Linked DNA regions of Homo sapiens. The protein of the gene in region 4 interacts with the protein of the main gene of each other region in a biochemical or structural test. Each region holds a gene or a part of one and is shown on either strand. Other genes may lie near its edges. The genes, in order: PTPN12, PTPRJ, PTPRG, TEC, PTPRK, PTPRB and GAB1.

The links.
Region 1: of the proteins of TEC (region 4) and PTPN12, one has a biochemical effect on the other in vitro, tested with the Homo sapiens proteins (one large-scale study listed by IntAct).
Region 2: of the proteins of TEC (region 4) and PTPRJ, one has a biochemical effect on the other in vitro, tested with the Homo sapiens proteins (one large-scale study listed by IntAct).
Region 3: of the proteins of TEC (region 4) and PTPRG, one has a biochemical effect on the other in vitro, tested with the Homo sapiens proteins (one large-scale study listed by IntAct).
Region 5: of the proteins of TEC (region 4) and PTPRK, one has a biochemical effect on the other in vitro, tested with the Homo sapiens proteins (one large-scale study listed by IntAct).
Region 6: of the proteins of TEC (region 4) and PTPRB, one has a biochemical effect on the other in vitro, tested with the Homo sapiens proteins (one large-scale study listed by IntAct).
Region 7: the proteins of TEC (region 4) and GAB1 form a complex in vitro, tested with the Homo sapiens proteins (one large-scale study listed by BioGRID and IntAct).

What each region holds. Positions count from the first base shown.
Region 1 is NC_000007.14:77,543,692-77,548,206, forward strand, and holds part of PTPN12 (tyrosine-protein phosphatase non-receptor type 12), read left to right. Parts: intron 1-4,515. UniProt on the Homo sapiens protein: Dephosphorylates a range of proteins, and thereby regulates cellular signaling cascades. Dephosphorylates cellular tyrosine kinases, such as ERBB2 and PTK2B/PYK2, and thereby regulates signaling via ERBB2 and PTK2B/PYK2.
Region 2 is NC_000011.10:48,133,419-48,137,933, forward strand, and holds part of PTPRJ (receptor-type tyrosine-protein phosphatase eta isoform 1 precursor), read left to right. Parts: intron 1-2,620; coding exon 2,621-2,878; intron 2,879-3,584; coding exon 3,585-3,863; intron 3,864-4,515. UniProt on the Homo sapiens protein: Tyrosine phosphatase which dephosphorylates or contributes to the dephosphorylation of CTNND1, FLT3, PDGFRB, MET, KDR, LYN, SRC, MAPK1, MAPK3, EGFR, TJP1, OCLN, PIK3R1 and PIK3R2. Plays a role in cell adhesion, migration, proliferation and differentiation.
Region 3 is NC_000003.12:62,201,571-62,205,070, reverse strand, and holds part of PTPRG (receptor-type tyrosine-protein phosphatase gamma isoform 1 precursor), read right to left. Parts: intron 1,899-3,500; coding exon 1,121-1,898; intron 1-1,120.
Region 4 is NC_000004.12:48,259,193-48,263,707, forward strand, and holds part of TEC (tyrosine-protein kinase Tec), read right to left. Parts: intron 1-4,515.
Region 5 is NC_000006.12:127,981,520-127,986,034, forward strand, and holds part of PTPRK (receptor-type tyrosine-protein phosphatase kappa isoform b precursor), read right to left. Parts: intron 4,357-4,515; coding exon 4,202-4,356; intron 1,859-4,201; coding exon 1,723-1,858; intron 1,462-1,722; coding exon 1,312-1,461; intron 1-1,311. UniProt on the Homo sapiens protein: Regulation of processes involving cell contact and adhesion such as growth control, tumor invasion, and metastasis. Negative regulator of EGFR signaling pathway. Forms complexes with beta-catenin and gamma-catenin/plakoglobin.
Region 6 is NC_000012.12:70,556,865-70,561,379, forward strand, and holds part of PTPRB (receptor-type tyrosine-protein phosphatase beta), read right to left. Parts: intron 4,133-4,515; exon of another isoform or gene 4,071-4,132; coding exon 3,807-4,070; exon of another isoform or gene 3,741-3,806; intron 2,761-3,740; coding exon 2,479-2,760; intron 1,215-2,478; exon of another isoform or gene 1,116-1,214; intron 1-1,115. UniProt on the Homo sapiens protein: Plays an important role in blood vessel remodeling and angiogenesis. Not necessary for the initial formation of blood vessels, but is essential for their maintenance and remodeling. Can induce dephosphorylation of TEK/TIE2, CDH5/VE-cadherin and KDR/VEGFR-2.
Region 7 is NC_000004.12:143,412,829-143,417,343, reverse strand, and holds part of GAB1 (GRB2-associated-binding protein 1), read right to left. Parts: intron 1,868-4,515; coding exon 1,573-1,867; intron 1-1,572. UniProt on the Homo sapiens protein: Adapter protein that plays a role in intracellular signaling cascades triggered by activated receptor-type kinases. Plays a role in FGFR1 signaling. Probably involved in signaling by the epidermal growth factor receptor (EGFR) and the insulin receptor (INSR).

The DNA.
Region 1 (4,515 bases), on a different chromosome or scaffold from region 4:
AGGCAACCACAAATCTACCTTCTGTTTCCATAGATTTAAGTATTCTGGACATTTTATATAAATGGAATCATACAATATGTGGTGTTTTGTGACTGACTCCACCTAACATGATGATTTCAAGTTTCATCCATGTTATAGTATTGATCCGTAGTACTTTTGGCCTTTTTATGGCTGAATAATATTCTATTGTATAGATACCACATTTTGTTTATCCATTCATCGTGTTGATGGGTATTTGAATTGTTTCCACTTTTTGGCTAATGTGAATAATGCAGCTATGAACATTTGTGTACAAGTTTCTGTGTGGACACATTTTCAGGTCTCTTGGGTATATATCTAAGTGTGGAATTGCTCAGTCACGTGGTAACACTATGTTTAACATTTTGCGGAACTGCCAGACTGTTATCCAAAGCTGCTGCACATATTACATTCCAATCAGGAATATATGAGGGTTCCAGTTCCTCTACATCTTCACCGATACTTGTTGCTGTCTTTTTGATTATAGGCATCCTACTGGGTGTGAAGTGGTATCTTCTTGTGGTTAGCTTGTAAGATTTTGTGTGTCTTAATTTGTCTTTCAAAGCTAGAGTGATAGGAAATATTTTCCAGTCCTTGCATTTGAGCTAATCTTAGTGCTTACCCAGTGCCACTGGTTTAGTTATGGTTTTCTTATCCATCCTTTGATGAGTATTCACCTAAACATATTTACATCAACTAACTTCAGAAGTGGAAGTGAACTTTTAAGTAACTCTCCAGACATGGTTCACTGAGACAGTAAACTAAAAATTTACTTTAAGCATTCTCAAGAATGTTTTACTTTATTTACTTTCAAAATATATTAACTTTTTTCCATCAATATTTGATATTTAACTTGGAAAAAGGATTTTTAAAGGATGAAACTGAAAGTAAGACATTAACATTTAGGTGGCTGTAGGTTTTTTGTTCATATGTTAAATACTTCTGTGTTTCTGTAGCACTGAGTTCATTAGATTCATAAATATTTACATTTCTGTCTTCCCCAGACTGAACGCCTCCCAGGCTAGAGACTGGGACTTAATTATCCCTGTATCCCCATTGCTTAATATAGTGCTTGGCATTTAATAGGCACTAATGTCCATTGCATGTGCAGACATTGTAGACAAACTTAATGCTGTAAGACAGATTTATTCTTCAGGTGAATTCTTCAGTGGTCCAAGGGTTTGTCTTCTAGACGATCATGAGAACTGCTTCTTCCCCTCCTACACAGATGTGCTCACATAACTCGTTGTATTTTCAGTATCCACTGAAAAAGAAAATACAAGATAAGAGCTACATTGAATTCAAATATTTTAAATAAATATGATTTTATTAGCTGCAGTTTCTTAAGGTAACTTCTGTATTTGTGCATCCCACACCCAATGGATCATACTTTGTTGACATTGTCTTAGAGTATTAATAAAATGTCTTTTAAACTTTTGGCTTTGGACTTAATAAAATCAAGATATCATGTCATCGGTATCTCTTCAAAAATAGTGAATTTGTGGGTATTTAGAGAGTGATTACAAGTGATATCTGTTGTTCTCTACTTGCCTCTAGTTTCTTTCCTCATCCAGTCCATTCAACACATCATACTCACTTTCAAGTGGCAGCATCTGTAGGCTAATGGAAACCATACTGGTTGTACAATCAGGAGATGTGGGCTGCACTGGAAGCATGGTTTAATTTTTATTATTAAAAATATAAGTTAAAAAAACTCATTGCTCCCTTTGATGACCATTACAATTATTGGAAATTTTAAATGTGTATTTTGAAAGTCAATTCAAAACATATGATCCAAGTGCTGCTCCTTTTTCAAACTGTAATTATGTCTGTCTCTCTTTCCAGAGAGATTTGATTCCCTGATTTTTCCCTTCTCAGCTCCCTCCAATTTTAAATATATATATATAGTTTTTTTTAATAATTAAAAAAAAATACTTCACCTGGAAGTTTTCATCCAATTTTGTAACTTTGGTCCTAGTTGAGAATCACAGGCCTATAGGATAAAGTCTGTACTTCTTAGCCTGGCATTCCAGAACCTTCTTAACATAATGTCACAGTACCTTTCCAGTGTTAAACTTCTATACTCTGGTATGTATCCTCTCTTCTTTTTGAAGGAAGCTATTCCTGGTCCTTGAGCATACCTACTAAATGAATGAAATCTTGCTTATCTGTGGTTGTACTGTTGAACATACTTTTTCCCTCAGAAAGCTTCCCTTTTATTTTATTTTATTTTATTTTTTTGAGACAAAGTCTTGCTTTGTTGCCAGGCTGGAGTGCAGTGGCACCATCTCAGCTCACTGCAACCTCCGCCTCCTGGGTTCAAGCAATTCTGCTGCCTCGGTCTCCTGAGTAGCTGGGATTACGGGCGCCCGTGACCACACACAGCTACTTTTTTTATTTTTAGTAGAGATGGGGTTTCACCATGTTGGCCAGGATGGTCTCCCCTTTTATTTTATAAACCAGTACTTGGAAGATGAGAAAGCTAAAAATTTAAAATGACTTCACCATGTTCACCAAAAACTCAGAAGCAAAAATGTGATTAATTCTCACCTTCTAGAATAAATATTTTAGCACAGTTAATCTTAAAGCACTTTTTCTCCTTTGTAAAGTTTGATCTTTAATATCACAAGAAAAAAAGCCTTTCATTAGATTTGAGTTGAAAACTTGATAAGGTAAATCAGGTGATATGCAATTTCTAAACCACTAGTCTTTTCCAAATATGAGTTGAACTCCTCTTCCAGCATTTTATATTTCCTGTAGTATTTAAGTTTCTTTAGATTCATGCAGTCAAACCTTGACAATTATCTCCTTCCTTCTGAAATCACACAAAAATCTTGTTTGCATTTGTACAGTATTGTAGGGTCTGTAGCTGGCCTATGGCAGATATAAGAAGCAAACAGTAGTTGCTCCCTAAAAGTTTTTTTTGGAGAAAGTGGAGTGTGGACTGTATTAGTCCATTTTCACACTGCTATGAAGAACTGCCCGAGACTGGGTAATTTATAAAGGAAAGAGGTTTAATTGACTCACAGTTCAGCATGGCTGGGGAGGCCTCAGGAAACTTACGATTGTGGTGGAAGGTGAAGGGGAAGCAAGGCACCTTCTTCACAAGGTGGCAGGAAGGAGAATGAACATGGGAGGAACTACCAAACATTTGTAAAACCATCAGATCTTGTGAGAACTCACTATCAGGAGAATAGCATGGGGGATTATAATTACATAGGGATTATAATTCAAGATGAGATTTGGTGGGGACACAAAGCCTAGTCATATCGTGGACCATGATAATCTCAGAGGCTTTGGGAAGTGTGCTAATATCTACATTTCCTGTAATAACTTTTATATCTAATCGGCATTTAAAAAGCTATTTTAACAACATTTGAGTGACTGTCCTGATAGGCTCTGAAGGAATGCAAAGATTTGTCTCTGTCATCCATCCATGGTCTCTGTCATCCATCCATGGTCTCTATCATTTATCCATTCATACAGAAGGTATTTATGGAGATACCTGAGTGCCCACTATGCCCTAGGTACTGTGTTTTTGAATTGACAGTTGAAAACATGGCAGTACTCTGTTCAGGAAGTTTACTAACTGAACAGACCTGTGAGAAGCAGCGGGACTTTTCCTGGGGGCAGTGGGTGGGCTTCAGGGGAATCTTTGAACCCTTTTAAATTATATATAATATTTTTTGTGTGTAAGCCCATTTTAGGGGGAAGAAAGTTCATAGCTCTTAGTTTCTCAAGGAGTTTGGGTCCCTTAGACTAGTGGAAAGATAAGGAGTTTAGGAGCTATACAGTCATTAATTTCTATCCTGGCCCTGCTGTGATTCTGAGCAGATTATCTAGAGAAGTTGGGGCTCTAATACCTACCTGGAAAGAACAAGATAATATATGTAAAGTTTCTAACATAGTATATAGAAGGTAGTCAAAGGAATTTGAGATGACATACTGCTCCAGTGGAAGTATATTCGGAATATAAGCCAGAGAGACAGGAGAGCCTAAATCTGTCTGAATAGATCATGGACAGTTTCCACAAAGATGCTACATTTGAGCTGGTTTTTGAAGGAAGAGTTTGTCAGGTGAACTAGGTGAGTAAAAGGCAACAACACTTTCAAAGACTTGGAGATAAACAGAGATAGAACTGTGGGTTTTAGATGGGAAGAACAGGGTCAGTGTGTATAAAATAAGAAAATCTTATGTACCCAAATAATAGGATTTCCAAAGGAATATCAGCTTAAATGCTATTATGAAATTGGCCTGTGTTCCTGAGTGTTTTGATGAGGAGTGTTTTGATGTTCCATTATTATGGCATAGTTGTTTGATCTTACAGTAGGACCTTTTAAAAATTGAGTCCTTGTCACATGGTAAATGTTCTTAAATCTGGTAATTTTACTTTATCTCAGGTATATAAAGTAGTACTCTCTCTGTTTACACAGTTCTTAGATGACTAGATTAGTGTTTCTCATTGGCATCTATCAGATATGTTTAAAGTGCCCTGTA
Region 2 (4,515 bases), on a different chromosome or scaffold from region 4:
CGTTTCATTCAATGGTCCCATTGAATGAAAGTCAAGAAGGCTTGCTATAAGATCTAAACTCTTAGGGGGGTTACCTTTCTATTATCAAATAACCTTTATTGTTATTGGAAAAAGTCAGCTTAACAGCATTAAAAGCAATTTCAAAAAAAGGAAACGAATACCATATGATCCAGTAATTCCAGTCCTATGTATATCTCCAAAAGAATTGAAAACAGGCCCCTGGACAGTTATTTGTACATCAGTGTTCATAGTAGTAGCATTGTTCACAGTAGCCAAAGGTGGACCCAAGATCCCATCAACAAATGAATGGATAGATAAAATGTGGTTCATCCATACAACAAAATACTATTCAGCCATAAGAAAGAAAGAAATTCTGATTTATGGTACAACATGGATGGATCTTGAGGACATTATGCTAAGTGAAGCCAGACACAGAAGGACAAATACTGGATGATTCCACTTACATGAGTACCTAGATTAGGCAACTTAATATTCTACAGAAATTAGAATAGAGGTTACCAGGGGCTGTTCAGAGGAGGGAGTGGGCATTATTGTTTAATGGCTACAGTTTATGCTGGGGATAATGACAGTGTTTTGGGTACAGGTAGTGGTGATAGTTACACAACATTGTGAATATTGATGATACCGAATTGTACACTGACAAATGGTTAAGATGATAAATATTATGGTATGTATGTTTTACCACAATAAAAATGAAAAGGAACAAATATCTCTATTTTTCTAACCCAACTGAATTCCTTTTCTCTCTGTGTCCACAGTCATACATTTTGCTTGTATACTGTAATTATTATACAAATACTTTTATTTTGTATTTGAATTTCTTTTTACTCAGTCTATACCACAACTTTCCCCTATAGTTAGCATGGCCTTCATATTTTTAGTGGCTAAAGAGTATTTCATCATGCAGCCAGATCACAGTGCCCACAGCCCTCCCCATGTTATTGAATATTTAGGTTGTTTCTAGGTTTTTATGTTTATAGACAAAGGCTGCCTTTCATGGGCTTTTGTCTGTGGAATCCCTTTGACATCAGGAATCTGCTGGTAGGAAACAAAGGCTCCTCCCAGTGGCTTCTCTGTAAGGAGAATCCACTTAAAATTAAAAAAAAAATTAATTTTGGAGTAGATAGTACGTAAACATGGCACAATTTTTTTTGTTTTTTGGACAAGGTGTTTGCAGTGAAAGCATTTCCCTTTTTTGTCCCCTACCTGCCCATTTCCTCTCCCTGGAGGTGACGTTTGTTGCCAGGTAAAGAGAGACAGGGTTGAAAGCCGCGGTAGAAAATAGGCCCAGCCTCCGCGGTTACTTCCGGGCCTCTATGTAGGCATCCCTGGTGCAGGTGGCTGAGTGGGCAGCGGGAGATGATCGGAGGATGGGCTCCTGTGGGAGATTCCATTTCTGACTCTGCTCTGAAGGTGCAGGGTGTGCCTGTTTTCTTCCCTTCCTCATCCGTCCTCAAATGCTGCAACTTAGTAAAGGTCAGCTCTCCATTTCAGTTTTCCTCTTTGGTATGTAAGGCTGTGTCACGGGAAGATGTTTCCTTCTGAGTGACTGATTTAAAAAACACAACAAAACAAAAAAACCTCTTTATTGAGATATAATATACATACCGAAAAGGGATGTATCCTCAGCACATAGCTTCATGAACTTTTACAAACTGAACACATCTTGTTACCAGCACCCATATAAAAAAACTGAATGTGATTTCCACTTCAGATGACCCCTTGAAGGGCTTTTTTTTTTTTTTTTTTTTTGAGATGGAGTTTCGCTCTTGTTGCCCAGGCTGGAGTGCGATGGCGCGATCTTGGCTCACTGCAACCTCTGCCTTCCGGGTTCAAGTGATTCTCCTGCCTCAGCCTCCCAAGTAGCTGGGACTACAGGCATGCACCACCACGCCCGGCTAATTTTGTACTTTTTTTGATAGAGACGGGGTTTCTCCATGCTGGTCAGGCTGGTCTCAAACTCCCGACTTCAGGTGATCCGCCTGCCTTGGCTGCCCAAAGTGCTGGGATTACAGGCGTGATCCACCGCGCCTGGCCTTTTTTTTTTTTTTTTTTTTTTTGAGACAGAGCCTCATTCTGTCGCCCAGGCTGGAGTGCAGTGGTGTGATATCGGCTCACTGCAACCTCTGCCTTCTGGGTTCAAGCGACTCTTGTGCCCCAGCCTCCCGAGTAGCTGGGATTACAGGCGTGTACCACCACACCCAACTAATTTTTGTATTTTTAGTAGAGATGGGTTTTCACCATGTTGGCCAGGCTAGTCTCGAACCTCTGACCTCAAGTGATCCATCTCGGCTTCCCAAAATGTTGGGATTACAGGCATGAGCCATTGCACCCAGCCTAAGGGCTCATTTTTAAGACAACAACAAAAAACTGGAGAACTGGTAAGATAAACTGGGAAGTTCATGTGCGTCACAGAAGAGCTGAAATTCTTGAGAGCACTGAGTGTGTGCATTTCTCAGCTCGATTTTGGAGTGTGCCTTTTGTGAACTCATTAGAAAGCGTAATGGCAAAAGAGCAGGTCCTCTCGACAGCACTTGGAGAGGAAGCTGGGCGTCATGATAGTAACAGTTTTCCCTTCTCCTTCCTTTCTTCTGAGCAGTTCCCAGTGCAGTGTTTGACATCCACGTGGTCTACGTCACCACCACGGAGATGTGGCTGGACTGGAAGAGCCCTGACGGTGCTTCCGAGTATGTCTACCATTTAGTCATAGAGTCCAAGCATGGCTCTAACCACACAAGCACGTATGACAAAGCGATTACTCTCCAGGGCCTGATTCCGGGCACCTTATATAACATCACCATCTCTCCAGAAGTGGACCACGTCTGGGGGGACCCCAACTCCACTGCACAGTACACACGTAAGTCTCTTAGGATGCCCTTCTAAGGAACAGCCTCTCTAACTGTCTCTTGGAGGAGGCACTGGTTAAATGATGGCCAGTGTGCTTCTGGGATCCAGGTTGACTCTGAAACTGCTGAAGTTGAAAACATTGGTCTCAGCAATGGTTCTGCTGTCACCATGGGGCACTGTTCTTCAAGCTATGTGAACTTAGAATTGTCATTAGAAGGAAGAAATGATTCCTTGGGAATGGTGACTGAAATGGTTCTAGTCATTCCTTGAGAATACAGAGTAGAGAAGGGTCACCTTGTCATGTTGGTATTGGAAGATACTGCCCAGATGAGGAGCTTCGCCTGCAACAGTTAGGGAGGTGTTTTGCGAATATTTGAATTAAATACATGGTAAAGATGTTAGTTTGTAATATGTTTTTAGTATATTTTTCTCCATCTATTAGATTTAAAAAACAGATTAGAAATTAAATGTTAAAAATATATTTGAAATAAACTTGAAGTATTAAAAGAAGCCTAAATTAAACTTCTTTTGAGACTTAATCTGTATAATTATTTTCTTGATGTGTTTTTGGGAAGTTTTCCATCTTTTGAGCCAGCAAATACTAGTTTTATTCATTCTTTCTAAAACGAGCCAGGCTATTTTTGGATATAGTAAATAGTCCTGGAATTCTACTTAATCTGTGCTTTTACATGAATTGCCTTTTTTTTAAAATCAAGGGCCCAGCAATGTGTCCAACATTGATGTAAGTACCAACACCACAGCAGCAACTTTAAGTTGGCAGAACTTTGATGACGCCTCTCCCACGTACTCCTACTGCCTTCTTATTGAGAAGGCTGGAAATTCCAGCAACGCAACACAAGTAGTCACGGACATTGGAATTACTGACGCTACAGTCACTGAATTAATACCTGGCTCATCATACACAGTGGAGATCTTTGCACAAGTAGGGGATGGGATCAAGTCACTGGAACCTGGCCGGAAGTCATTCTGTACAGGTGAGTGTAGCCCCAACTGCCTCTTGGACTCCTCCCTGAGTGGTGCTGACCTTGCAGGTCAGTCCTCCCAAGTCTGTAGTTTGTCTGGTTTTGTGTGATGTGCAGTGATGGACATTGAGCTTTCCGAGGCATCCTGTTAGCTTATCGGTGCTGTCTCGATGCCCTCATCATTTCTGCATTCAATAAATATTTATTGAGCATATACCATATGCCAGTCAAGTCCTTGCCTTCTTGGAACTTTTCGAAGGAGGAAGTGGGATGTTTACCTAGAGTGCTCAGGAAAGGCCTCAATGACAAGGTGACTTTTGAGCAAAGATCTGAATGAAGGGAAGGAGCCAGCCATGTGGATATCAGGGCATGAGAACATTACAGGCAGAGGCCTGTGCAGAGGGGCCTGTGCAGCATCACCACTGTATCTGGAGGCTGGAGGAAGAGCAGGAGGCAAGGGTGGGAGGAGTGGACCCGCAGGAACAGGAGGATATAGGTGGGAGGTGAGGCCTGAGTGGGGCTGAGCCAGGATGTGGATGATATCTGGCATTGGTTTGTCTTTTGTGCTGGAGAAGATGAAAAGTTTATTGAAATGATGCCCAGCCTTTGCATCCTTCTTGATCCTCACCTATCTCACAACTGAAAATGTGTGATAAAGAGAAGA
Region 3 (3,500 bases), on a different chromosome or scaffold from region 4:
TAGATGAATTTTAATGTTTACAAGTGCAAAAGCAAATAAATATTTACCAGTTGCTTTTTTTTTGCACTCTTATAACTCCACAACAGCTTAGACGCAAAAAAAATTGTTGCTAAACATCTTGTAGTCTGGCAAAATGAAGAATTTCTTATTAAGAAAAGCCCTCACAACAATAACAACTCCTCATGCTTATGGCTCCCTTGCAGAAACTATCAGGATGGTTCATTAAGATTTGAGCATATGATAGAGCAACAAAATTGCCACCAGGAGATGAGGATCTCATGCCCTGGCCTCACTGTCTATACACTGGCTCATTCCCACAGCAATGGGAGCTCTGGGAGAGAGGGCCGTATTTCTTGGGCAAGGACCATGGGCCAATACCAGCTCTCCCCAGGCTGAAGCCTTTCATTCTGTAGGTTTCCATGAACAAGCCACTTCTCCAGAGTGGCCTTTCTTAATTAAGGTAGGTCCCTATCCTCTCCATAATTCTCTTGGACAGCATCCTGTTTATTTCCTCTATTACCATTTCACAATCGAAAACTTCAGTTAGTTAGTTTTCCAGCTTGCCAGTTAACCATCTAGCTTGCCGACTAACCACCATCTAGCTTGCTGGCTTTCTAACGTTCCTGCTACCTAACTTCTGGGCATGCGCTCCAGCTAGCTACTGTCTTGTCATCTGTCTGCCTTCCCCTTTAAACTTTTTAGGCAGGGACTAGGATCCCCTGGGACAGCACCCTGCCCAGTCCCTGGCACCAAACTAGCCATTTGTAGATACATTATATAATGAATATGGAATGAAATCTTAATAAATAAACTTCTTAAGATCGATGGCTTTTTTTATTCATGTATATCATTGCCTGGTTGAAGTCCCTGGAGTTATTCCGAGGCAAGAAAACAAATATCAAAGAAAGACTTACTCCAGCGTAAGAGAGTAGGCTTTTGGAGTAAAACAGGGACACACACATACACATTTCACATGTGTGCACCTTTTCTATGACAGACATATATGATTCTAAGAATATTAAGTACCTTCTGAAGCTTCACCTTCTGCTCCCAATTTTTTGAAAAAGGGTACGACTATTCACAGGAGCAGGAACCCTCGAAGAAGACCTGCACCACTTACCTGGATTAACAGTGATAAATCTGCTGTCTTCAGAAAATCGGTCCCCGCGGGACATAGGCTTTTTAGATGGCATTTCGGGCCTCTTGGGATCACTCCCTGCATACTGCTCCTCTGTGGCGGTGGGGGGCACTTGGGTGGAGGTGACCATGTCGGGGTCCAGGCCTGGGCCGGCATCCCTCCTTCCGCCCGTCTGGTCTGTGGGGACGGCAGTGTGATCCTGCTCATGCCCAGGTATAGTCTGATGCCCTCCCTCGGCAGTCCTGTTAGGAGACGAGGGTGTGGGGCTGGGCTCCGTCTGATTCCGCTCCTCGGCAGCGTGGGTCACCCCACTCTTCTCCTTCTTTTCGGAGTCCTTCTCTCCATCCTCCTCGTGCTCCCGCTCCCCATCCTCACTCTCGCTTTTCTCATCCTTCTCTCCTTCCTCGGTGCCCTCGCCGTCCTTGGTTGGTGACGAATCACCATCGGGCCCTGGAGAAGCCAAGGCCTCTGTGGTGGCTAGGACTGGCCTAGCCGCCTGCTTGCTGGCTGAGGCGGCCGTCGGGAGGCGCGTGGGCCACACAGTGCTGGGGAAAGAGGAGATGCCACCACCGCCGAACCCCAGGCCGGCGAGCAGCGTGCTGGTGACCACCGAGGCCACTGTGGCCTGGCTGCCACTGGAGGAGGGGCCCATCCCAGTTGCCATGGAAACAAATGAGAATGGGATGCCAGAGGACGTCCAGGTAGAAGACCCCGAGCTGATGGGGGCCATGTCGGCTGAAGAGGCAGGAGACGCTGTGGGCTGGAAAGGGTCACCCGGCAAGGGTGGAAAAGAGGCAGAAGAAGAAAAAGCAGAGAAGCATCAGTAATTGAGATTGGGAATGAGGCCCTGGTTGTCACCCTCTGAGGATTTTACTCATCTATGCTATGGAGTTTTCCAATGTATGGCATAAAGTTGACATTAGGTGGTCCATGGGTGATCAACTTTTATTTTTAATGGTTTTATAATTGTGAACATGTTAAAATGCATAACTAGTCGATCAAACTCAGCTTTTCACTGATATTACCCAAGATGAGGCTAGGTGCCAAAAAAACTAAGTAGTGTTAAAGCTGACTTACACAACAAAGAAGTCATGAACTGGAAAAATCAGATGGTCATCTGTTCTTGGGGTGATGAGAGGCAGAAGACCTTTGATTTTATGTATATCACTGACACTTGAGTAGATACTCAGCTCTAGGTCTGGAAAGATACTGGGTGATCCAGTCCAACCCCACTGTCTCCCAGTGAGGAAGTGGGTGGACAAGGAGGGAAAGCAGCCTGCCCAGGTCTGCAATGACAGGGTCAGAGGCAGGAGCCATGCTCTGCACTGCATGCTCTGGGCACTGGTTTACATCTCTGCATCTCCATGTTGGGCACTGCAGAGTCACTGTACCTTGCAGTTTCTAAGTTGATCCGTGGGAAAATCTGAGCCCATACAGATGACAACAACATCAACAACAATAACAAGAATTCCAATTAACAAATGCCAACCGTGTGCCAGGGCTTTCCATGCTACTCTGGAGGCAGGCATGATCATCACCCCATTTTGCAGGTGAGGAAACTCAGACACAGAGATGTTAAAGAGCTTACACAAGGTACATGACCTGGAAGGCACAAATGCAGGGCTGCCTGGGTCTAAGACTCGGCTTGTTCTTACCACCATACTAAACTGGGGCTCAAGTCTGGGGGTTTTACTCACATAAGGTATCTTAGGAAAACAAGAAGTGCTGCTCTGAGCTATTAGTCTAATTTTAGCTTGCCTGCTGGGTGATGCTGGACACATTACTTTAACTCACTGAGCCTCGGTTTCCTCATCTGTAAAACGGGAACAACAGTAACACTGACCTTGTGGGCTGCCTGGAGAAGTAAATAAAATAATCTGTGCCTGAAACCCAGGAAGAGCATAGTGAATTTTAGGCTATTATTATTATCACCACTGCTGTGATTAGTATTTTAATTATTCATTATACCAACCAGGAATGGGGAAACTAAGATATTAATTCTGGTTCCAGAAATTTTCAGATCCATATAACTTTACGCAAATGACAACCTCTGAATTTGAGTATATGTCAAATGAAAGGGTTGGAACAGATTTAACTCCTTTGTGGTCCTGCATCGTCTGATCCCACAAATCATAACTAAAAATATGAAGAATTTTTACCTTCACAAAATTATATAATATAACCACCTAACACTGTTGCACAGCTTGTGTTCATAAGGTACTGAATTATAAAAAGTGAATAATGTAATTTTTTCTCTACTATAACCGCTTTACACTGAGCAGTTTAACAACATTATACTGCCACTTCGTGGTGACAGTTTTAACTGCAAGCAAATTAACAACCAGCCACGACAAAGCAATTT
Region 4 (4,515 bases):
TATGTGTCATTATAGTTTGTTGAATAGATGCAAAACCTGAAGCACAGGAAAATAATTCCAGTTAATAGTTAACTTAGAAATCCATGCAAGGTAATGAAACAATATGTATAAAAACCCCTGTGACTCATGTTTGCCTACGTAACAAACCTTCACATGTACCCCCAAACCTAAAATAAAAGAAAAAAGAAATCCACCCAAGGCTTTAAACATTAGACCATGATATCTAGAAAGATGACAAAGGGGCTGGGCGCAGTGGCTCATGCCTGTAATCCCAGCACTTTGGGAGGCTGAAGCTGGCAGATCACTTGAGGTCAGGAGTTCGAGACCAGCCTGGCCAACGTGGCAAAAGCTCACCTCTACTAAAAATACAAAAAATAGCCGGGCGTGGTGGCACATGCCTATAGTCCCAGTTATTCAGGAGGCTGAGGCATGAGAATCTCCTAAACCCAGGAGGTGAAGATTGCAGTGAGTCGAGATCATGCCACTGTACTCCAGCCAGGGTGACAAAGTGAGACTTTGTCTCAAAAAAAAAAAAAAAAGAAAGATGTCAAAAGAAAAATCTGAACAGGAGCTCACTCTGCTGTAGTTCTTTATCAAGAAACTACATTAATGCAAAATTCTCTAACATTGCTGGTTGCCTTGCACACCTTACTGGGCCATGATTACTCAAGCAGTAGAGAAATGGCACAATGGATAGGAAGGCTGGAGTTTCCTGAGGACATAAGATGCCTTCCCGGGTCACACAAAGTTTCATAAACTCTAGACCAGGTACTGAGGTCAAATGTCATTGCACAGTTACATAACAACTCTTCCATGTTTTGTTACTGATCCTTGGAAAGTTTTCCTATAGACATCCAATAAGATGAAATGAGGCTCTACACATTACCAACAAGAACACAGTCTCTGCAAATGACCTGTCAGGTTCTTCTAGTTTTATCTGACCTATAACTGGGTACATAACATGGCCTCAAGCATTCTGGCTCTTCTTGTCCTCACATAACAGAGACACTGTAATTCTAAAAGGTCAAAAAAGAGAAAAAATGGAAACTTCACATTGCTAGTGAGTTATTTTATGACCTTCTAAAACTGATGAATAAAAGCTAGAAATCAGTCAGGTGTGGTGGCTCACACCTGTAATCCTAGAACTTTGGGAGGCCGAGGTGGGAGAATCACTTGAGGCCAGGAGTTCAAGACCAACCTGGCCAACATAGCAAGGCCTCATCGCTGCTTAATTTTCGTTTCAATGAGCTGGATGCAGTCATATGCATCTGCAATCCTAGCTACTCAGGAGGCTGAAGCCAGAGGCTGAAGCTCAAACCTTCTATTTAAGCCCAGGAGTTCGAGGCTGCAGTAATCTATGGTGATGGCACCACTGTGCTCCAGCCTAAGCAACAGAGCAAGACTCTGTCTCTAAAACAAAAAAAAAGAAAAAAAAAATCTAAGTGTCCAACAACTGGGGAGTGGCTCAAAATACCACCGTATGCTAACATGACAGAATTACCCAAAGAAAATTATGCATGGACTAATTACAACGTCATAAAGTAACTACCTGTGTATAAATAAAGATTGTAGAATTTGGAGTTACATAAACAGTTGTAACATAATGCTCCTTAATTATTTTCTAGAACATTGCTAAAGATTTATTAAAAGTCAGCTGGTAATAGAGATGACTGGAAGGGGATTCACAAAGATTCTCTCTGGAATGGTTTTAGGGTTATTTTTAATTTCTTCTTTGTAAGCTTCAGTATTGTTTACATCTTCTAACAAGGAATATATAAAACTCTACAAAATGACAATTTTTTTTTACTGATGGCAAGGAGAGTCCAAGGAGCACACCAGGTGTCTGAGAACCTCGGTGGCACCCAAAGATCAAACTTTTGCCTGGGGGAAGCAAGATGGTGTGTCAACAGCTCTGAGCCTAAAAAATGTCTTCTGGCTAGGACTCCAGAACTTATGAACAAGAATTATTTCATGCAATGCTTCTATAACTGGTTTAAGTATGTGACAAAGACACTGACAATCCTTAAAAAAATTCAAAAGCATGTATACCTAAATTTACATGTCTGACAGCATTCAAACCCAGTTAAATTGTATTTCTGTTTCCCTGCATGGTTGAAGGATCAAGCATTTTTATCACCCAAGCAGGAAAATGAAGAAATCAACTGCCTTCTACAAATCAAAAATAACCCTAATAGTAAAAACTAACTTTGTTGCATGCTTAAATCATATTGGCAGAAAAATGAAACTTTAAATCACTCTTGTAAGAAAAAAAGCCAGTTTCATTTTTGGGGCAGTCATATGGAAATCCCACAAGTCGTGGTTGAAACATAATATTGAGGAGTATGTGAGGACATTAAGAGTTTCTAAGGAAATAGTAACAAAAGATATCATTGGAATTCCATGAAGGATAAGAGAAGAAAAATCAAAGGTTTTTCCTACTAAATCACATTATAATGTCACCAAAATTAAAAATAAAAGGAGTAGGATACTTGACAGGGAGTTTCACCTTGTAAGTATCTCATATAGTACATGACAAGTTAAAGTCTGTCGCTTTGATACTCTATTGTAAGCATTTCAAGGTTAAAAGCTTTAACCTTGAAAAACAAATGACATATAGTTACAAAAGGCAAAAGTATATATTGTAGAAATCCAAACAAAAGTGTTCCTCCTTTAGAAACATAAAACTGATGAGATAACATAATGAATACTTACTTCCCTCCCTCCTCCAAAAGCCATTCTTTGTAGCCATAAAAACTAAGATAATCATAACACTATGCTAAGAAAAAATATACAGATGGAAAATAATGATAATAATGTATGTTGTCCTTTCAAGAATGTTTTCAGTGAAGAATATTTCTAAATAATACAAGAAACAATACACTTGAGAAAACTTAAATTGAATGCTCTATATTTCAATCCATATATAGACAAGTGATGTGAAAGTCTAATCAAGAATTTAGAGAATTTAGATTGTTGAGTACAACTTGGGTAATTGTGACCAAATGTCTCTTTTTTTTTTTTTGAGACGGAGTCTTGCTCTGTTGCCCAGGCTGGAGTGCAGTGGTGCGATCTCAGCTAACTGCAACCTCTGCTACCTGAGTTCAAGAGATTCTCCTGCCTCAGCCTCCCGAGTAGCTGGAATTACAGGCACGTGCCACCAGGCCCACCTAATTTTTGTATTTTTAGTAAAGATGGGGTTTCACCATATTGGCCAGGCTGGTCTTGAACTCCTGACTTCAAGTGATCCACCTGCCTCAGCCTTCCAAAGTGCTAGGATTACAGCCATGAGCCACCACTCTTGGCCCAAATATCATTTTTTCTTAACTATAAAGTGTCCAAAATTGTCTGGAAAATTCATTCAGTATATTAAGTACTTGCTTGGTACTATGCTTTCCCTAGGAAAGAACTTCTGTGAAGACCCAGTACATTACAGAAAAACTATACTGCCTGGAAAAGGGAGGTTCCAATGACTTCAAAGACTTCGTTTAGAAAAGGGAAGGATGCTTGTGGAAGCACAGTGGGAGGAATGAGCTCTGCAGTATCCCTACTAGCCAAGCTTTTGTTCACAATGGTGCCTAGTGGTACCTGCTGAAAAAGCCTTTTTAACCATCTGTCATCCTCCAAAGATAAAGTAATTGTTGCACCCACTCCATTGTCACAATCGCCAGCACTCCTGTTTTCTGTATTGCCAATGCATAGCTGCCATCATGGGAAGATCGAGCTTTGCTTTTTCTGCACAGATAAGATGGCTTAGGAACAATTATCCTCCTACTTTTGTGGAAACTGACTCTTGTCATCATGTGTGTAACCATAAAGAATGTTGATGTTACAAAGCAACTGGGAGAGCATGCTGGAAGTTCACAGCCCATTAAGGGAGCCTGAGGAATGACTCAACTGATGAAATGACGTTGGGAAAGTCGTGATCATCCACAAACGGCAGGGTACATCAGCCCAGCCAGAAACAGGAACTTGGTTCACATTCCAAGGAGGGCACAAGTGGAAAGGGAAGTAAGGGTGCTGCTGCTGGTAAGGCAGTTGTGTGATAAACTGGCCTCCAGAAGGAAATAATGATAACTTCCATTGAGGCCACATGGCCATCAATGACACCAATCCCATCTTTCAGATTAAAATAATATTGGACTTAATAGAAGCTGCACTTCACTGAAAGGTAAAACATTCAGAGGTCAAGATGGCAGAAAGAGTCATCCTACACAAAGTGAATTCAAGAAACAGGAACAATAGGCCAGGCGGTGGCTCACACCTGTAATCTCAGCACTTTGGGAGGCCAAGGCAGGCAGATCACCTGAGGCCAGGAGTTCGAGGCCAGCCTGGCCAACATGGTGAAACCCTGTCTCTACTAAAAATACAAAAATTAGCTGGGTGTGGTGGCGTGCACCTGTAATCCCAGCTACTCGGGAGGCTGACGCAGGAGAATCACTTGAACCCAGGAGCTGAGATCATGCCACTGCACTCCAGTCTGGGTGACAGAGCGAGACTGTCTCCACCCCCGCCAAA
Region 5 (4,515 bases), on a different chromosome or scaffold from region 4:
GGTACGCTAAACAACACTGCTACCTGCAAAATGCATTGCCTTAACCAAAGAAAATGCAATCGGGCAGTCCATTATGATAATGACCCTTCATCACACTGGGAAACGGTATCATTTGTAGTAACATCTGGGCTTGCCATATTTGAAGATAAGCTATGGCATGTTGGAAAGAGCACTGGATCAACAATCAAAGAATTTGGTCTCTGCCCTTGATTTTATTTTCACCCACCTTCAGGGGTGTTTTAAGGGCAGTGAAAACATTTAGGGCTATTTTGAAATAACATGTACTACAAACTTCATTTATTATTATTATTACTATTATTATTTTTGAGACAGGGTCTTACTCTGTTGCCCAGGTTGGAGTGCAGTGGCAATATCTTGGCTCACCACAGCCTTCCAGGGTTAAGCAAACTTCCAGGGTCAAGCAATCCTCCCATCTCAACCTCCTGAGTAGCTGGGACTACAGGCATGCACCACCACACCCGGCTATTTTTTATATTTTTTGTAGAGATGAGGTTTTGCCATGTTGGCCAGGCTGGTCTTGAACTGCTGACCTCAAGATCTGCCTGCCTTGGCATCCCAAAGTGCTAGGATTATAGGTGTGAGCTGCCACTGAACCCAGACTCAGTTATAATTAATGTGCTTGATCTCATCACATTGTGAGTGACCCAGGTCAAAATCTGTATGACTGCATGAAAAAAAGGCTATAAATACACACTAAATACACACAAATCACCACTCATTTTGACTTGTTATTATTTCTTTTTTTTTTCTGAGACGGAGTCTCGCTCTGTTGCCCATGCTGGAGTGCAGTGGTGCAATCTCGGCTCACTGCAAGCTCCGCCTGCCAGGTTCACGCCATTCTCCTGCCTCAGCCTCCCGAGTAGCTGGGACTACAGGCACCCGCCACCATGCCTGGCTAATTTTTTTTGTCTTTTTAGTAGAGACGGGGTTTCACCGTGTTAGCCAGGATGGTCTCGATCTCCTGACCTCGTGATCCACCCGCCTCGGCCTCCCAAAGTGCTGGGATTGCAGGCATGAGCCACTGCGCCTGGCCTAATTTTTGACTTTTATGATACCTTTCCCCTTTGCTCTTCCCTAAGTCTGAACTTATTTGTCATTTTGGATATAGTAGATATAAATTCATCAATAGAAAAGTGACTATATAATATGTATAATGAAAGAGATACGTATTGTATTTAAAACAGGATCAAAGGTTATAAATTTGACTTGAAAGACCTTCCTTGAAAGGATTCCTAGCGCCCAGAACAAATTGTAGTAAGTCACAAAAGAGGTTTTAGAAATAGTTAATACCTGAAATTCATCCTTGAGATGTGAAGAGTTAGTCTGGGAGTCTATTCTAATCATATCAAAATATGCAGCTTTAAATTCACAGACAGGTATGGCAGTTTCTCCACATAAGCAGGCTTCTAAAATGGCATCATGAATAAAAATGTACTGTTCCTACCAAAAGAATGAAAAAGAAAATTTTGTACTAGTTTTAGTATCACTTTTCTGTCATCAAAGTTAGGAAATACAGAAAATTTTCTCTATATGGAAATATGAATTAAAACACCAATATTTTTCTATATGACTCAGCTAATATTGATTACACATGAAAAACATCTCTTTCGGTTGAGTAGAGTATATATGAGAGACATCTACTCTTTGTTTGCAAAAAAAATAAAAAATAAAAAAAAGTCCACTACAGGTAAATCTACATACCTCTGTCTGGACCATATTAATACGCCGAGATCTTAAGGCTTTGACACAATTGTAAATATCAACAACACCCTCTCTTTCAGCCATGTCTAGCATGATGTCAATCACAATGTAGCAGCCAGTTCGTCCAGCACCAGCACTGAAAAACAATTAAATTTAATGAATTGTAAGAAGCATGTTAGTCTTCATAACCTTAAATAAGGACTTTTTCCACTGTCAGATAGGTAGAATCAAATTGATTTAACAAACTGCAAGGCACAGCACTTGTCCCTGCTGTGTAAAAGCTTATTAATGTACAAATAGCTTCATGCAGAGTATCTGCTTTGGTATAAACTAAAGATTGGAACAAGAGTTCTAAATTATTTTCAAATTGAAAATAACACTGTTTAAGTTCCACACCTCTCTCACAATTTTCATTTTATGTAAATTTAATACACATAATTTCAAGTTCATAGAATTGATCAAGTGGCAGATTCACGCTTCAAAATTTAACTCAAGATTGAATATTTTTAGATTCATCTAGTTGTGTGTCCTCTGGCAACAATGTGAGAATGTTGGCTCACTCACTGTCTTCACCTCTTGTAAATACCAAGGCAAAAGAAAATTAATTCCCAAAACTTTAAACGGGAAATCTGAGGAGCCACGCTTCACAGGAAATGCAAATGGTGGGGGTGGGCAAGAGAATGACGGTTATCAAAGGGGAGGAGAGTAACAGTGTAAAGACTATTTGAATCATGATCTGAAGAGAAATGAAAATGAATTATTAGGTGTAGAATATGATTCCCAGCAAATCAAAAGGCTAGCCGCTATCTTACTGTATTTAATTCTAAAGTTAATTTTTAAAAATACTTTTAAAAAATTATATTTTAGTCTTTAATTGGCAAATAATAATGTATATATTCTTGGGTACATAGTGATATTTTAATACACATAATGTAGAGTGATCAGAAAAGGGTGATTGGCATATGCGTCCTCTCAAACATGTATCATTTATGTTGTGAACATTCAGTATCTTCCTTCTAGCTCTCTCAAACTAAACATTATCATTTACCAGACTCATCCTACAGTGGTACAGAACACTAAAATGTATTCCTCTATCTCACCATATTTTGTGTCCTTTAATTGTAATATACTGTGATTATTTTGCAGCTGGGGAATGTTTCTCCAATTTTATATATAGAAGTCAATGGGGAAAACAAAATAAGGATTTTTTGCGGGGAGTGGGGAATTCACTTTGTAGTCCAGAGATGCTTCAGTGTAGGTGGAAAATGACACTTCTGTTTCAAGAGAGTATCTGAGAATCTTGGAGCATTTCTGAAGCAAGCAATTCATAAGAAAGTAAACCTCTCTGATAAATCAAGAAATTCTTAAGTTGAAAACCTATTTATCTCATTTTCTAAGTGCTTAGATAGGCTAGTAACATTATTTCCTTGTTATTCAGATTTGGTCACTTCTCTTAAACTCACTGTTCTTTTAGAAATTTAAGCAAAAGATATTGTGGCTATCTCTATTTATCTTTGTCCCCTACCATCTTCTCAATCACTGTTCCCAGAGTTGGAGACAGGAATGTAATTTAAGAGTACATCAGATTTCATGAGGAGGATTGAAAGGAAGTTTTTTTTGTTTTCAGGGTACATAGTATCTGATCCTATGGGACGTTTTACCTTTACTTCATTCTCTGCTTTTTTTCCCCTCTTTTATACATGGTTATTTAAATCCTGAATAGGTTGGATTTTCAGAAAGCAAAAAATGCTTAGGTACAACCTATTATGTAGCTTGGAGGGAAGAGCGTATGAGAATGGTGTGCAGCATCATTTAGGAAACGCTTTTCAGATTCAGTACTTATTTTTCTGGTCACACCTCAAAATGAGGCCATGTAATTTGCTTTTAGTATCTCTAAATGCTTGTTTTAAGAGAAGTTTCTAATCAGAAGAAAGTCTGGATATAATGCTCGTGTTTTTTGGCATATATTTGCTGAATCTCACTGATGCAGTTTTCAAGGTCCTCTAATGTGAATTCTTTAAAAAAAATTTTTAAATAGCTGTTTTGCAGCACAAATCCTTGCAATTTAGGCCATTTAGTAACTCTGTATGTCTGAAATTTAGTTTTAAAGCTGGAATTCTATTGGGAATTTTCTAGATTGGCAAGAAATGTCTATTTCAACCTAGCATTCTATACAATATGGGATTTGCAAAAGTGATAAAAACAAAAAACACAGATGTTGCCATTAAAAGGCAGAGTTTCTATACTTTAAATTGTGGATAACACTACACGCATTAGGATGAATGTATGTATTTCTTAAGTTCCTGTTTTATAGACTACTTACAGCCAACTTTTATTTTATTGCTGTTTTACTTTATCTATAATACAAGCAAGCTGGAACTTCGTAAGCACACATTAGTTTTTGTGCTCAAAAGCCTTGTCTTGATACTCTAAAAAAAGCTGATTGCATACAGTCAATACCATTTGGACCACCACTTACCTGCAATGTACAACGATGGGGCCAGCACTGGGAGGGTTTGATAACTTGACTCGCCGGATAAAGGAAAGCAGCCCTGTAGCATGGTAGGGCACTCCATGGTCAGGCCAGCCCGTGAAATGGAACTGTTTAACTTCACGGATTTCATTGTACCCCCTCTGTGCAAAGATGGAAAGAAATGTTTTCAAAAGCCATTTTAATGGCCAAAATAAAGCCATTAAACACAATTATGGGTACAGACCCAACTGACAATGATAACAATAAAACCTTTACGAAAGACTATGCCTTTTCTTAAAAAAAAAATATAATAAAATGAA
Region 6 (4,515 bases), on a different chromosome or scaffold from region 4:
TCACGTGTTGAGAGAAACAAGTACCTACTATGTGCCAGGTGCTCTTCTGGGGATTATGAACAGTACAGAGGTAAATAAGACGTTAGCTCTAACCTCTACAAATGGAAATGAGTCCAAAATAGCCATAACACAAGGTAGAAAGGAAAACATACCAGAAGAAATGGTGAGAGAAGGTGCTATGTGGTGTGACACACAACTTTTAGCTGCTGGCTATTAGTGATCAGCAGGAGTTAGTAAAAGCTGTAAGGCAGAGGTGACACTCTGCCAAGGTATCACGAAAGAGGCATTCTACGTAGAGAAAAACCAGAAACCCAGGTACCAAAGGAGGAGGTGCCGGAGTGGGATGGTAGAAAATTGAGAACTGCAAATCATTCATTATGGTTGAAGCATATTTGTGAGAAATTGAGTACTGGAATGATTTTACATGAAAATTATAAACTTCTATTCTATTTAAACTTCTGCTATTTTGGATTTTCTGTTACCCATAGCCTCACCCGATCCTAATAAATACAAGCCTCGAAGAAAACAAAACAAAACATAACAAAACAAAAACAAGTTCCACCATAATCATTCCTCATGAAACAGCACTGAGTCTCTCTTTCATGGCAGTTTTTGTCCTCTTGGGCACTCCCCCTTTTGGTAAATGCCTCCCTTAAATTCTAGCACCCGGGACTGAATACAACAGTCCAGTTGTGACTTATAAGCCTAGCCTCTAACAGAGTTGTATGAGCTCTTAAACTGAGCACCTGCGAGGCTGTTGGGAAAGGCAGTCTCATGTGCATAGTCTATCAACCCCCATTTGGCTGTGTAAGAAATGGCCCTTGAGCTTAAGATACTTTCTTACCAAGAGATGGAGAGCCTACACACCCTGTGCTGGGCTCATTGCCTTGTGTGGGAGTATCATTCCCTGTTGCAAGCTCAATGTATGCTCTTTTGTTCTGCTTAAGCATGTGTGTCACATGGTAGATGGCGAACACCAATGCTATAGTTGTCCTCTGAGGAGACAGGACAGGGTCCTTCTACTGTGGCCCGAGAGGGGTGCACTTAGCCAACTGCCCTCCATTGGCTGCTGGAAGAGACCACAGACAATGCGCCCTTCTGTTTTCTGTTGTCAGGGTTGAAGATAGCAAGTGCATCTCTGGGCAACTACTGCAGCTGGCTGTGGGGGACTGATGCATACTGTTGAGGCTGATCTTACTCTGTCTCCTCTCTATGTAAGTAAAGCTTTGTTCCATCCAGTGTTTGCATTGTGTTTCCCTGGCTACTCTAATACCAGATGCAATGGTCAGAAGTGTTTAGAGTTCTGCCCTGGGTTTGGTAACCAGTGCAGGGTGTTCTGCTTAGCAGATTTCATGAACACAGCCCACAGTCAGCCACGGAAAACTCATCCTGAGCTCGCCATAAACTAAAACTCTTAGTTCTTTTTCACATATTTCTCTTGACACACAAATAACTGCTCTTTGGATACAATGTGGCATAAAAGTTATACTTGTTATAGTATTAATGCTTATTAAAAAAATAAAACAACTACTTGCTTAAATTTCTAACTTTCAACTATGTATTTTATCAACAACCAATAACTATCTGATCTGATCCCAGAAGCTACTTATACTGGGTATTATTGAAACACAAATATTTGGATTAAAGTCCCTACACTGAATACCTGTCTTTCTTTGAGGGTGATAGTATCTATCCCAAAATGCCTTTGGGAAGAAACTGGTATATGCTTCGTCGTCGAAGTATTTTTATCTCAGGGACATACAGCAGTATATGCTAACTATGATCCCTCTGCTTCTAGTTTTGCCTCTTTCAATCTATTCTCTACACTGTACCCAGAGTAACTTTCTAAAGTGTAAATAATGATTATGATATCTCTGCTGAAATTGAGTGGCTCCAGTTGGTTCAAAATAAAGTTCAAAGTAGTTACCATGGAATACAAAATATTTTATTATCTGATTCCCTTAATCCTCACCTTTTATGCTATGGCCAAATAAACTTCTTTCTGTTCCCCTATTGGTAGATCTTGTACTCTCCCTCCTCTCTCATCTTGGAATATTTTATTCTCTCTACCTGGAATATTCTCCACTTCTTCCCCTACCTCTACCTGGTAAATCTCTTGCTTTAGGTTTCTATTTGGATGTTTCCTTTTCCAAGAAGTTCTCTTGTATTGGGTCAGATTACCTAACAAGTGTCTCCATAGTACCATTTACTTCCCTCATCACACCCAAAATATAATGTCTATTTACAAATAGTACGTCCTACCTAATTGTAAGCCCCATGAGGGCAGAGAGAGATTTATTGTCCCTTGTTGTTAATGTTGAATGAACGAACAAATCTACAGAGACTTCTGCCTGAATTCAAATCCAGACCAATCCCATGTAAAAATATGGATTTAATCCAAGCCCTATTTGAGTAAGATGTTGAACATATACTTCCTCTACTCCATTTGAGAAATAAGAGTAGCAAAACATGTCATACTTGTCCTCACAGATCCAAAAATTGGTTTGCTGTAAGTTTTCCAGGAATCACCACTGACAGTCTTGACGTTGAATTGATAGGATCTCCCTGGACGAAGACCATACACAATGCGTCCTTCTGATTTTCTGTTGTTGTAGGGGTTGAAGACAGTAAGTGCATCTCTGGGCAACCACTGCAGCTCAAAGTCGTTGTAGTCTGTCCAGTCTGGGGGCCCTTTCCACGTGATGGCCAAGGATGTGTTTGCAATGTCAGCAAATGACATAAGACTGGGAGGACTTGGAGCTGAATGTAGGAGAAAGTGAAAAATCACATAATCACAGCTATGCCATAACATATACAAATAAGATAGCTGAGCAACATCAGACACACTTTTAATGTACTTTGTAGGAAGAGATAATATGATAATAATATAGTAGCAGGAGCTTTCATTAATAGTGTTTATTATGTGTAAGGCACTGTCTTCGAGCATTTTATGTACTTTTTTTTTTTTTTTTTCACTTTTTTTTTTTTGAGACAGAGTTTTGCTCTTGCTGCCCAGGCTGAAGTGCAGTGGAGTGATCTTGGCTCACTGCAACCTCCGCTTCCCAGGTAGCTGGGATTACAGGCACCTCAGCCTCCCAAGTAGCTGGGATTACAGGTGCCCACCACTACACCTGGCTAATTGTTGTATTTTTAGTAGAGACAGGGTTTCCTCTCGTTGACCAGGCTGGTCTCGAACTCCAGACCTCAAGTGATCCACCCACCTCGGCCTCCCAAAGTACTGGGATTATAGGCATGAGCCACGGTGCCCAGCCTCATATACCTTTTCTTAAATATTCATAGCCAGATCTTCCTTACCATGGTGCTGTGGAGCATGAGTGTGCCCTGAATGGGTTACAAGTGTGTGAAGATATTAATTCCATCAGATTTTGGGGTACAGGGCTGACGTCCACAGACAATTATGTTCAGTTGCAGATAGCCTTGTTGATTAACTCCAGGGTGGCACACAGACCTCTGTGTGTGCCCATGACATAAAAACAGTTAGGAAGCACTGGTGATAGCCACACAGTGATGATGTATATGATTATTCCCACTTTGCAGATAAGAAAACTGAGGCCTAGAGATGCTCAATGACTTGCCCAGATTCATAGAGCTAAGCTAAGGACATATTTCTTTTGGACCAAAGCCTTGTCCTTTATCTGTTGTCCCACAGTCCCTTCCCAAATTCAGGGGCTAGCTCAGGGTATATCATTATTGGCTTTATCTCTTGTCATTAAAATCAGAATCAAAATGTGTCTCTGGAAGCTACTTCCCACCATCCCTTGGCCATTGGCACCTGGGCTTCTCACCTGTTCTGCTCTCCGCTGTGACTTTATTGCTGAGATCTCCACTGTGAGTTACCACCCACAGCACGTACTTCCTTCCAGGAACAAGGCCTTGAAACCGCCACTCCGTCAGGTCCTTGTCTTTCCAGTTTTCCTTCTTTGTGCCATTGGGATTATAGAGAATCAGCTCATAAAAGTCAAAGTCCCCAGAGGCTGGACTCCAGTTGAACCAAAGGCTGTCTGTCGTGTTCCGATTGGACCCCCTGAGATGACTCACAGAGGCTGGGACTTAAACAGAAGAAAAATTGTTACTGAGAACAAAACAGAAACACAGGCATTTTGGCCCACAGGTGAGAGTATATGCTATGTTGGGCATGTGGGTGAGTCGTACATATTGTAGTCAGATCTTGCCTACATTTCAGGCCATTTAACTTTAAGGGCATATGGACTAGAGATATGGTATAAATTAAAACAAAACAAACCAGGTGGTGACTTCTAGATGCTTGCCACATGGACCCTGATAGGCATGTAAAATGAAATCTTCATAAATGATGAATAAATCGTTGTCATTTAGCTTATGAAAAAGGCCCAGAAAATGTATATACGAGGTTCCAGCTCCTCCCAGTGTGGCCTATCTCATTGCAGCCACCATCCCATAACAACCCTCTCTGGGTCTCTTTACATCCTCTGTACCCTCCTTTAGGTTCTCAGTTCTCTTGTGCTCTTTTTTATA
Region 7 (4,515 bases), about 95 Mb from region 4:
CAGCTCTTTCCAGGATAGGCACCCCAAATCTCAGTCCCTCATTCAAGATTTGTAAGCAACTGTCCCTGGGCCTTTTTCACTCAGAGCCTTACTGCCCCAGTCAAGTAAAATTCGATTCCTTCTCTGGGTCTGTTCTTTCCTAAGTCCCTAAGCCTGGAGGGTTCTGCGTCCCTCCTTTCATTTACACAGAAATACTGTTTCTTTCAAAAGCCTACATTTTGCAATTTATTTTCCTTTCAGAAGCTTTCCTTCACTACCTCTTACCCAAACCTTGAGCCCCTCTTTCTTCTTCCATGTTCCTTGTAGGACCTGTGCTAAGTAATTCATTTGTTTGGTACTTGTTCATTGTGTTTTGTGACTGATTCTCACTTGCATTTCATAGGTAATGATAATTACCTTGGCTATTTCCTAACTTCATAACCTATTTATGCTTGAGGTTGCAATTTTTTGAATGTTTGCAATCAGACCTTGGCGATGACCTTGAGCAGTGGGATATAAATAACTCCCACATGCTTAGCGTTCCAATAATGGAACACTAGGCATAAATGGGATAATCTAATATAGTTTTTTGAGACGGCATCTTGCTCTGTCGCCCAGGCTGGAGTGGAATGGTGCAATTGTGGCTCACTGTAGCCTCCGCCTCCTGGGTTCAAGCGATTCTCCTGCCTCAGCCTCCTGGGTAGCTGGAACTACAGGCGTGTGCCACCATGCCTGGATAATTTTTGTATTTTTAGTAGAGATGGAATTTCACCATGTTGGCCAGGCTGGTCTTGAAGAACTCCTTACCTCAAGTGACCCATCTGCCTCAGTCTCCCAAAGTGCAGGGATTATAGGTGTGAGCCACTGTGCCCGGCCATAATCTAATATAGTTTTAAAATATATTTTTAAATAGCACCTAAAGAATTGGGTTGAGCTACATAAAAGTGCTTTTTTTTTGAGACGGAGTCTCGCTCTGTCGCCAAGGCTGGAGTGCAGTGGCGCGATCTCGGCTCACTGTAAGCTCCACCTCTCGGGTTCACACCATTCTCCTGCCTCAGCCTCTGGAGTAGCTGGGACCACAGGTGCCTGCCACCAAGCCCGGCTAATTTTTTTTTGTATTTTTAGTAGAGACAGGGTTTCACTGTGTTAGCCAGGATGGTCTTGATCTCCTGACCTCGTGATCCACCCGCCTCGGCCTCCCAGAGTGCTGGGATTGCAGGCATGAGCCACCGCGCCCGGCCAAATGTGCTATTTTTTAATAGGTGAAAAATAGTAAAATATCAACAGTGTTATATGGTTAAACTGAATATTTATATTGGAATTCAATAAATGTTCTTAAAATGTCTTCTTGTCACCTTTTACTTCAGGATATTTAAAAACTGCCCCAATATGTCTAAGTCTGTCGCTCTAAAACTGGTAAACAGCTTCTCCCCAAACTAATTAAAGGATTCAGTGCTTTTTCCAAATGTCAAGTTCCTATTATAAAAATAAAACATTATATTGTGTAACTAAAATAACAAAGAATTGTATGACATTTCTGGAAATGTAGCAGAAAAGAAGAATTCAAGTTGAATAGTAATATCTTGAACTTACCTTCTTCTGTTGGATTAAACCCACAGATGTCACAAATACAACGAACCCACTTATTCATCTCCTCCTCGCTGTCTGCTACCAAGTAGAAAATCCGGTCAATAGTGTTGATATCAAAAATGTAGCTGTTTTCAAACTCTTTTTTGTTAAATGTCAATCCAGCATCTACTTGTTGACATAAATTTAAATCAATAATACGAATAGGCTTCTTGGCATGATCATTTTTGTAATATTCCAAAACATCTGGATCTCCAGTTAAACGGCCACTGCGTAACACGAACCATCTCCTCTTCCATGCCTAGAAACAAAACAAAAATATCCATTCAGTATTAACTTGAGATAATGTTTTCAAGAAGATGCACATTTATCAAACTGATTTTACAAATGCATTGTTTAGAGAAAGTCACAATATGTGTGTGTTTGTGTGTGTGTTTTTACCACAGGATAATCTGCCACTCTGAAAAGCAACGTTTACTCATAACTCAATTAACTTAATAATGTATATATATATTCAGTATGTTCGATTAAATCTCCTACTATATAATATTGAGGCAATACATCAAGGAGGATTCAGTTTTTACTAAATATGAAAAAGTCATGGTTTCAACAAATGGTGTTAGGAAAACTAGAAATCCATACGCAAAAGAATGAAGCTGGACATTATGCTAAGTGAAATAAGCCAGTCATAAAAAGACAAATATTGTATGATTCCACTTATATGAGGTAGTTCAAGTAGTCAAATTCATACAGACAGAAAGCAGAATGGTATTTGTCAGGCCCTGCGGAGGGGGAGGGGTGGGAAATGGAGAGTTATTACAGTATTTAATGGGCCTAGAGTTTGAGTTGAAGAAGATCAAGTTCTGGAGATGATGGTGGCCATGGTTGCAATGGTGCTGTGAATGTATTAATACTTAATGCTAGTGAATTGTATATTAAAAATAGCTAAAATGATAAATTTTATGTTATGTATATTTTGCCACAATTTTTAAAAAAGCAACAGATTTTCATGCATTAATATTATGCCATAAAGAATACACATAAAGCTGCTTCTTCATAAGACTCCTACAGATTTTAAACACTTAAAAGATTTCTCTTTTTTTTAGGTGCGGTGGCAAGGAGTAGGGAGGGGGAAAGGTTTTGAAGCTTTTCTGGCTTCTTGACTGGGAAGCAATTGATTGTGTCTCTCTTTTAGCCACACAGCCTGTTGTTCAAAGACTATACGAGTAAGACCTGTATTCTTGAGTATGGGATTTAACTCTTTCTAATATTTCCCCTCCTCTTCCCAACAAACATACATGGGCAATCTGTAATACACTCACCACATACCCCCTCCACAAGTTCTGGTAAATTTTGAGTTTAATACTATACCTAGAGAAGCCTAAAAAATTATTTTACTATCACCCTCCCTAAATCTATGGTCACCAAATAATAAAAGCAGAACCAAATGACAAACAGCCTTCCTTATCAGCCTTTAACCCCAACATGTGTGCCTGGAAACAAACTTACACCTTACTCCTCTTTGAAATTCTTCCTCAGGGAGGCAGCTAGACAGAAAAGAGGCCTATTTTAGCAAGTCTCAGTCATTTACTAAGAAACATTCTCTGCTCCAGATTCAACATTCTAGGTAAGACTACCTCAAGAGGACACTCTGGGCCTGGGTGCAGTGGCTCATGCCTGTAATCCCAGCACATTGGGAGGCCGAGGTGGGCAGATCACCTGAGGTCAGGAGTTCGAGACCAGCCTGGCCAACATGGTGAAACCCCGTCTCTACTAAAAAATACAAAAATTAGCTGGGTGTGGTGGCAGGTTCCTGTAATCCCAGCTACTTAGGAGGCTGAGGCAGGAGAATCGCTTGAACCCGGAGTTGGCAGTTGCAGTGAGCTGAGATCACTGCGCTCCAGCCTGGACAGAAGAAGACTCCTCCTCAAAAAAAAAAAAAAAAAAAAAAAAGGGCAGCGGGGTGGTGGGGATGCTCTGGGAAGTGGAAGGACTCGAAAACCCCCAGTGGAATAAAACATTCCCTTTGCTACTTGTGGGAAGAAAAACAAGTATATAATTCATTATTCCTACCTTCAAAGAATTGACTAATTGTGGAAAAAAATATTTAACATACATGAAAATACTTGAGACTACAGCAACCCAGGCAAAATGTCTGCAGAGGTATTGCTACATGAACAAGCATTCCTCTACAGAAAAATTTAGGCAATCCTTTAACAAGAGGATGACCAGAGATCACAAAGGCCTAAAAACATTATATAGGTCTTTAATCATCAACATTTTAAATTAACTTCTCATTCTTCACGCAGCTCAAAGGAATAAGTATATAATTTGTGTCCAGGGAAGGCAGGGTAGAGTCCTATAGATGTTTTAGATAATATTGAAAAGTCATAAAGTGTTGGATTCACATGATTTTAGCACTGTTTTCTGGACTATAAAAATCCATTCATTGAATATGCATCTACTTACTGCAAAATAAATAAATATCATCTCTTAGTAAAATTATCCCTCTATGGATACTTCCCTCTCAAGCAGTAAGCTTTAAAAAGTAATGCAGAAGTAAAGCAAAAGAATATAAAATATGATGTTATTTATGCAGGGCCCTCAAGAAATCATATCATTCAGTAAGTGATTTCTCCAGATAGTGAAGCTTCATCTTTAAATACAGAAATGACTTTTTAAAACTTTATTGTCTTGCACGCAAATCTTTCTAAAATGCTTTACTACATACTTCACCAAACATAATCCATTCCCCAATGATTCAGACTAAGTATTGTAAGCATCCATTTCTATACTGCACTTCAGGAGACTCTCAGAGGCTGTTGCACTGTATAGAGTGTCATTTGCCCCTATACTATTAATAAATAGTACCATATTGCTATGCTTGTATAGTTCATCTTTTAAATACAGTTTCCTGTCTTTTTTCTCTCAATTTCCATCAACTGTCAC